Linked DNA regions of Homo sapiens. The protein of the gene in region 1 interacts with the protein of each later gene in a pairwise test. Each region holds a gene or a part of one and is shown in the gene's direction. Other genes may lie near its edges. The genes, in order: TACC2 and CLVS2.

Region 1 (3,821 bases):
CCTGGAGCAGCTGTGACCTCAGAAATGCATGAAAGATGCCGCTGGGTGCCAGCAGAACCTAGAGTAGCCAAGCCAAAGCTGGGGCTGGCCGGATCCCCATGGGCAGTAGGGTGGTGGCACCTTTGAGCATCATTTGGCCAACATTTGCAGCATCTGCAGCATGTTTGGGAAATAGGAGCAACCTCCTTGACTGGCAGGGGCTGATGAGGTAGAAAAGCTGAGAGGAGGCAGCTGGGAGAGCAGTGAGACTAGGCAAGAGGCAGGGCCAAGGATAGGCAGGCAGGACTGAAGGAGAGGTTACAGGTGATGGCTGGAGCGGCAGGTGGCAGACAGCAAGTGCTACTACAGGTGCCGGGGGCCTCCGTGTACAGGCTCCCCTGATCTTCACAGTGGCTCTGAGGAGTCAAGAACAGGCTTGCTGGTGGCCGTGGCTAGTATGAATATTTATGGAAGCCTCCGTATGCCTTCCTGCAGGATTTCTCTGTCTTCCTGTCCCACTCTTGACCCTTGCTTTAGCCACACTGGCCTCCTCGCTGTTTCTGTAACGCACCAGGTGCTCCTGCCGCAGAGCCTTTACTCGCACTATTCCTTCTACCCAGGATGCTTCCTCCCCAGGAGTCCTCCTGTTTCATGCACTTACCTTGATTCTGGCCTTTGCTTAGATGTCTCCTCAGAAGATCTTGCCTGACTACCTTATTTTAAAAGTGAAACTCTCCTATCCCGGCTTTATTTTTCTCCTTAGCATGTATCACCCTCTGAAATTCTGTACATTGTTTGTTTGTTTTTGAGACAGAGTCTCACTCACTCTGTCACCCAGGCTAGAGTACAGTGGCGCAATCTCGGCTCTCTGCAACCTCTGGCTCCCAGGCTCAAGCGATTCTCCTGCCTCAGGCTCCGGAATAGCTGGGATTACAGGCGCTCACCACCATGCCTGGCTAATTTTTGTGTTTTTTTAGTAGAGACTGGGTTTCACCATGATGACCAGGCTGGTCTCAAACTCCTGACCTCAAGTGATCTGCCTGCCTCGGCCTCCCAAAGTGCTGGGATTACAGGTGTGAGACACCATGCCCGGCCCTGGTGGTTTATTCGCTATCTTCCCCTGAAGAATGTGACTTCCAGGAAGGGAAAGGTTTTGTCTATTTCTGTTCCTTGTTGAATCTCTAGTACCTAGAACCATGTCTGGTCCTGATTAGGCACTTGGTGAATGTTTTTGAATGAATACTCTGAGCTGTTCTTTAATCGGTCCTCATGATCCTCATTGTACAGATGAGGGAACTCTGGGCGAACCTGGCCTGGGTCTTGAGCTAATTACGGGTAGGTCAGGTTCTGTACCCAAGTAGTACACACAGTGATGGGCGGGGTGGCCTGGGGCCGTGGTTTGTCAACCCCTACGCTGGAGGGTGATGTTTTGGTACAAGAGGAGAGGTGCCCCAATGCGTCCTGTGTCTGTAATTGATGGCGTTGTCTGTGTTTCCCCAGGATGTGGTTCTGAGACAGTCCCTGTCCCTGATGGCCCACGGAGCGACTCGGTGGAAGGAAGTCCCTTCCGTCCCCCGTCACACTCCTTCTCTGCCGTCTTCGATGAAGACAAGCCGATAGCCAGCAGTGGGACTTACAACTTGGACTTTGACAACATTGAGCTTGTGGATACCTTTCAGACCTTGGAGCCTCGTGCCTCAGACGCTAAGAATCAGGAGGGCAAAGTGAACACACGGAGGAAGTCCACGGATTCCGTCCCCATCTCTAAGTCTACACTGTCCCGGTCGCTCAGCCTGCAAGCCAGTGACTTTGATGGTGCTTCTTCCTCAGGCAATCCCGAGGCCGTGGCCCTTGCCCCAGATGCATATAGCACGGGTTCCAGCAGTGCTTCTAGTACCCTTAAGCGAACTAAAAAACCGAGGCCGCCTTCCTTAAAAAAGAAACAGACCACCAAGAAACCCACAGAGACCCCCCCAGTGAAGGAGACGCAACAGGAGCCAGATGAAGAGAGCCTTGTCCCCAGTGGGGAGAATCTAGCATCTGAGACGAAAACGGAATCTGCCAAGACGGAAGGTCCTAGCCCAGCCTTATTGGAGGAGACGCCCCTTGAGCCCGCTGTGGGGCCCAAAGCTGCCTGCCCTCTGGACTCAGAGAGTGCAGAAGGGGTTGTCCCCCCGGCTTCTGGAGGTGGCAGAGTGCAGAACTCACCCCCTGTCGGGAGGAAAACGCTGCCTCTTACCACGGCCCCGGAGGCAGGGGAGGTAACCCCATCGGATAGCGGGGGGCAAGAGGACTCTCCAGCCAAAGGGCTCTCCGTAAGGCTGGAGTTTGACTATTCTGAGGACAAGAGTAGTTGGGACAACCAGCAGGAAAACCCCCCTCCTACCAAAAAGATAGGCAAAAAGCCAGTTGCCAAAATGCCCCTGAGGAGGCCAAAGATGAAAAAGACACCCGAGAAACTTGACAACACTCCTGCCTCACCTCCCAGATCCCCTGCTGAACCCAATGACATCCCCATTGCTAAAGGTACTTACACCTTTGATATTGACAAGTGGGATGACCCCAATTTTAACCCTTTTTCTTCCACCTCAAAAATGCAGGAGTCTCCCAAACTGCCCCAACAATCATACAACTTTGACCCAGACACCTGTGATGAGTCCGTTGACCCCTTTAAGACATCCTCTAAGACCCCCAGCTCACCTTCTAAATCCCCAGCCTCCTTTGAGATCCCAGCCAGTGCTATGGAAGCCAATGGAGTGGACGGGGATGGGCTAAACAAGCCCGCCAAGAAGAAGAAGACGCCCCTAAAGACGTAAGTTCAGGGGTGGAGGTGGTAAGGATCAGAGGCGGGGGTGCGCATTGGCTGTGACCCTTGGTCATGTGCCTGGATAACCTTCGACTGCCCTAACCTTGCCCCTGGGTGCTGTGATGATGCCACGCTTACGGCCGTTGCACCAAGCAGACAATGTACGTGTTTTCCTTCCTCTCTGCGGTCACAGTGGTGGCATTTTCCCATCCACATACCCCTTTGTGTCCTTGATCTTTTGCTTTAATAAATCAATGGGCTGGAGCTTTACTTGTAGCCAAAGACCTAATGTTCAACTCCAGAGCAATCTGGGAGATCCCATGGAAGGGGAAAGGTCCTTAGAGATCTGGTTCATCTCCCTGTTGGTGACTGATTGCTTTTTGGAGAAGCTGGGAGATACACCCTTTAAAATATTAAAATGTATAGTACTTGTTTCTGCCTATTAATGAGACATTAGCCCAACCTACAAACATAGTAGATTCCAGGAGGCTCAGGAATGAGAGATGTGGCCTGGGCCCCTCCCTGCTGCACTCCAACCAGCCCGTAAGAAACACCCTTCTTTGTCTCCTTCCTTCTCTCCAGTCATCTTTTGTAGACAAAGTCCCTGCAAGTTCTGAAGAGATAAATGGAACCTGAAAGTGGGGAGCAAATCCCCACAATCCCCAGGAAGCCATTGGTCCTTGGCTCTATGGTCCCCAGACACTTGACAAGGCCAAGTACATCGTGCTTAAATATCAAACACCCATGCCTCCAGAATCCACCCCAGGACCCGGCTCTAATGTGGATGGCTGCTGGTCCTTTATTCTTTGGCCCCTGTGGTTAATATCTTGGCGATTTCCTTACTCTTACGGGAAGTATTGTCAGTAATTTAACAAGGCTGAGGAGATCAGTCTCCCAGGGGCAGCAGAACAGACCACAGCGCTGGCCCCTCTGGGTCTGCCTGGCACGAAAGAGACAGAACGACATGTTTACCTCCCATTCTGGGCTCCCCCTAACATTGAATTTCTGAGAAGAACCCAGGGCCTCCTGAGAGGAG
Region 2 (3,821 bases), on another chromosome or scaffold:
AGAAGTAAAAATAGACCTACTTCCTCATATATCTTCACTGTATCATACTGCCTTCCTAACGAACTCATCATTTCCACTAAATGGGAATGATTTCGACTCCTAATCCACTCCCCTCCCCATCCTGCCTCTTCCCTGAGGTCCAGATCTCTTTCTCTAGCTATTCCTGAAATCTCTCCTGAGTGTGTCCGGGGAAAAAACTTAAAATGCAAAGTGTACAAAAATTGAAATTGTTAACATCTTCCATAAAATTTCTCACTCCTCTTAAAGTGCTGAGATTTCTAGGGATTCCCTTTTTAGAATAATTATCTGATATTTCTCTTAGCTCTGACTGCATTACCTCCTTCACTTCATTGAACTTAGAGTCTATAAGCTTTTAATTCCAGAATTTTCAGTTTTGGGCTCTCCCCTGAGTTTAGGATCCATTTGTTTCAGAAGCTTGCTTGATATACCTCTCTGGGTATACTACATGTTTCTCAAATACAATAAGTTCTATTCAAAACTTTGTATTCCCAGCCATTTCCAACAGTATCCTATTTTTGCATTATTGATATTGATTAAAAATTTTACTATGTATTCAGGCTCTGAAGCTAAAATATGTGTCATTTTTTACTCTTCCCTAATTTCAGTCCTCACATTGTCACAGTATAACAAGATTGTCTAAAATGCCACTCAAATTTGGCTTCTTATTTTTGTTCTTAGTTCCGTTGCCTCCATTGAAGCAGTGTCTTAATCTCCAACCAGTGTCTTTCTACTCTAGTCAAGTCACTTTCACAGTAATATAAAGAGCATTTATTGGGTTACTGGAACGTTTCAGGAACTAACCTGCTAAGGTGAAAAGCAGAAAACAAAACAAAACAAAACACAACAAAAAAAGATCCAACCCTTGAATTAGGATGGTTTGTATTATTGTAGGTAAATTTCCATGACTTTTCCCACTTTTATTTATATTTATCTCCTTCTCTTTCTATCCCTACCACCTTTCCTTTTCTTTATGATACAAACTCAATACAAGTAATTTGAATTGAGTAACTTTTATTGATAGCTGTCATGTACAGTGTTTTCATTTATTGATGAGACTCACTCAAATCTCATTCTCAGTTTTTTCAAATACGAAGATATGAAATGTCAATATTACTGAAGGCATTCTTGAACCACTTAAAACGTGTGATGCCTAGTTTTGGGTTAGTTGAATGAGATTTTAGAAAATCAAAAGAAGGCCTGGAGGTAAACTAAATGATGATAAAATATGAAAAAGCGTTTCCATTTGTTTGGGCAGAATACATGTTAAATTCGATTATGTTCTTGGAGTACATATAAATTAAACCTCTTCCTAAAATAGGTTTTTAAACAAAATTATTTCCTTAAGATTCTGAAGGTATTTTAAAGTGAATTTTTAGTGTGCTAGAAAATATTTTATAGCTTTTTGGAAAAGTGGTTGTCAGACCTAATTTAGTACTTTTCTGTCGCCGATAGGTACACACTGGTGGATATTTTGCGTGCCATCTTACTTTCTTTAGAAGCCATGATTGAAGATCCTGAGCTTCAAGTGAATGGGTTTGTTTTGATCATAGACTGGAGTAACTTCACTTTCAAGCAAGCCTCTAAACTCACACCAAGTATGCTGCGATTAGCTATTGAAGGCCTGCAGGTAGGATATGGAAATTACCTACTTCCTTGGTCTCTTGTGTTTGACTTCTCTTGTCTAATGTGTTAGAATGAAAAAATGTCTTACTTACAGAATAACAAAAACAAAAAAAATCTGTAGTTTTTGAGCACAAACATTAAAATACTAACTGAAGAAAGGATTATAGAAGAAACGCTGAAGGAAGAGAGTTTGTGACACTAGTACAGTGCTCCCTGTCTAAACAAATACAGGTAATGAGCTGAGATTTTTAATCTGAAAATCAGAACAAGCAACATTTTTTAGATTGTAATGATTAGCTATTTAGGCTTGTTTTTGTTTCTTTTTTCTGTGCCTATTAATTAGCTAAATATTTTCTTCATTATTTCATTTAACCTGGTGAATTTGGGATATGATCAGCAATATGTTCAACTGTTGGAAAGTCAATCAATATGTTTTTTGGTCTCTAAGATGCAAAGATCATCTCTCTAAATTTTCTTTAGACTTCATTGGGTTTTTTTGTGAGTGGGAGGGGCTGTCACATGGAATTTATATAGGAATAGTGCTTCTTCCAGTGAGTAATGTTTAACTACTTGGGAATTAGAAGATGGGAAACATATTATTATTTAGTGGTCTGTCATAAACCTGCTATTGTCAAGTTGCTTTTAACTTCCAGGGTGTCCTTCTATTCTCTCTCTTTGCTTTATGCTACTTTGTGTACAATGCTTATGGAATTGATTTTAAACTTCTAAAAATATTTACAAGTTAGTCCTTGAGTGATGTAATTCATTAGACTGGGGCATCAATGTTGAGTAAGCCCAAGTCATCTAGATTTTTACTCATTAGTAATTTCTGACTGCATCTATACACACCTAAATTGATAACTGCTGACCTCTTAAAAGTGGGCAACTTTTCCAGGTGCTGGAAATCTTCGATTTCTGCCTCTGGACTGAATAAGACACACTGATGTTTCTTCTCCATATAGGTTTTTCCTGATGTAGGCTTCCTGACTTGCTCTTGGTGAGACAGCCTTGCTCCTCTCTTATCTTAAACAATGCTTTTTAAAAACCTCCACAGGGACAGTTAATACAGGATGGTAGACAGCATAAGATAATGCATGTTTGGAAATGTGTATATCATATAGAATCAGTCCTAACTCTGCCCTTTTTCCAGCAATGTATATGGTGTTCTTCAGTTTGTGAACAAGATTGGTTACCACCCACTGTGTTACCTAACACAGAATGGTAACCTAGCCTTTTATAATTGTTATCCCTATTTAACCTGTGTCTTCTCTTTGCACTAGAGCTAGGCTAGGCCTTCAGCTCCTGAAGGACTGGAGAACTCATATTTTTCTTTCCCAAGAAATTAAAAAAAAAACACTTCAAGAATAGACTCTTGCTATTTTCCAACCTACTTTATGGAGTTTTTTAATAATACTGTGATAAGTCATTGCAGGAGAACAAACTGACAATTTGGAGATGTTTGGGAGCTTCCTTGTTAGCTGTAACTACTATCAGAAGTTCTTTAAGTGCTACCTGTGAACACCAAGGAACTACACTCAGATGAAACCTCTGTGCTTATGTCTAGTGAAGGAAATAATCCCATTCTCTGCATGGACCTGTAATGGCTGCACATTTGGAGCTGCCTTCTCTCTGTTCCCCAAAAATATCTCAGCCCCTTTCTCCTTTTTCCCAGAACACAAGACAGAGTAAGAAGGGTTGATTCCTCCTAATTCCCAATTAAGACGCCACTTAAGAGAAAAAAGCTCTTCCTGGGAATAGATTTGATGTGTTACTAACCTTTAAACTCATTTTTATTTTAAGTTCAAATTGACTTTTTAATGCTATATAATTACATCTATACCTATGTCTGTGTCTGTATCTGTGTCTGTGTCTACTCTATGTATATCTAAAAACAATGGTAATTCTGAATAAGAATATAGGATTGCTAGAAATGTTCCGTTGTGACATGCATGATCTCATATTTAGTCTCGTACTGAAGTAACACTTTCTGACTTTTTAAATCAAGTCACTGTTTTACTTTGCATTTGCTATGTGACAAATATTGTGTACCACTATATGTTTCATTCAGAATATGAATAAACATTTTTTTCAATATCAAAATAAGACCACAAAATGTTTGAAGTAAAGATACATACACAGTTTTAGGTTGCTAAACACAGCCACCACCATGCCAAGAC

The links.
Region 2: the proteins of TACC2 (region 1) and CLVS2 interact in a two-hybrid assay, tested with the Homo sapiens proteins (one large-scale study listed by BioGRID).

The regions. Positions count from the first base shown.
Region 1 is NC_000010.11:122,208,918-122,212,738, forward strand, and holds part of TACC2 (transforming acidic coiled-coil-containing protein 2), read left to right. Parts: intron 1-956; exon of another isoform or gene 957-1,052; intron 1,053-1,479; coding exon 1,480-2,791; intron 2,792-3,821. UniProt on the Homo sapiens protein: Plays a role in the microtubule-dependent coupling of the nucleus and the centrosome. Involved in the processes that regulate centrosome-mediated interkinetic nuclear migration (INM) of neural progenitors.
Region 2 is NC_000006.12:123,009,512-123,013,332, forward strand, and holds part of CLVS2 (clavesin-2), read left to right. Parts: intron 1-1,473; coding exon 1,474-1,648; intron 1,649-3,821. UniProt on the Homo sapiens protein: Required for normal morphology of late endosomes and/or lysosomes in neurons. Binds phosphatidylinositol 3,5-bisphosphate (PtdIns(3,5)P2).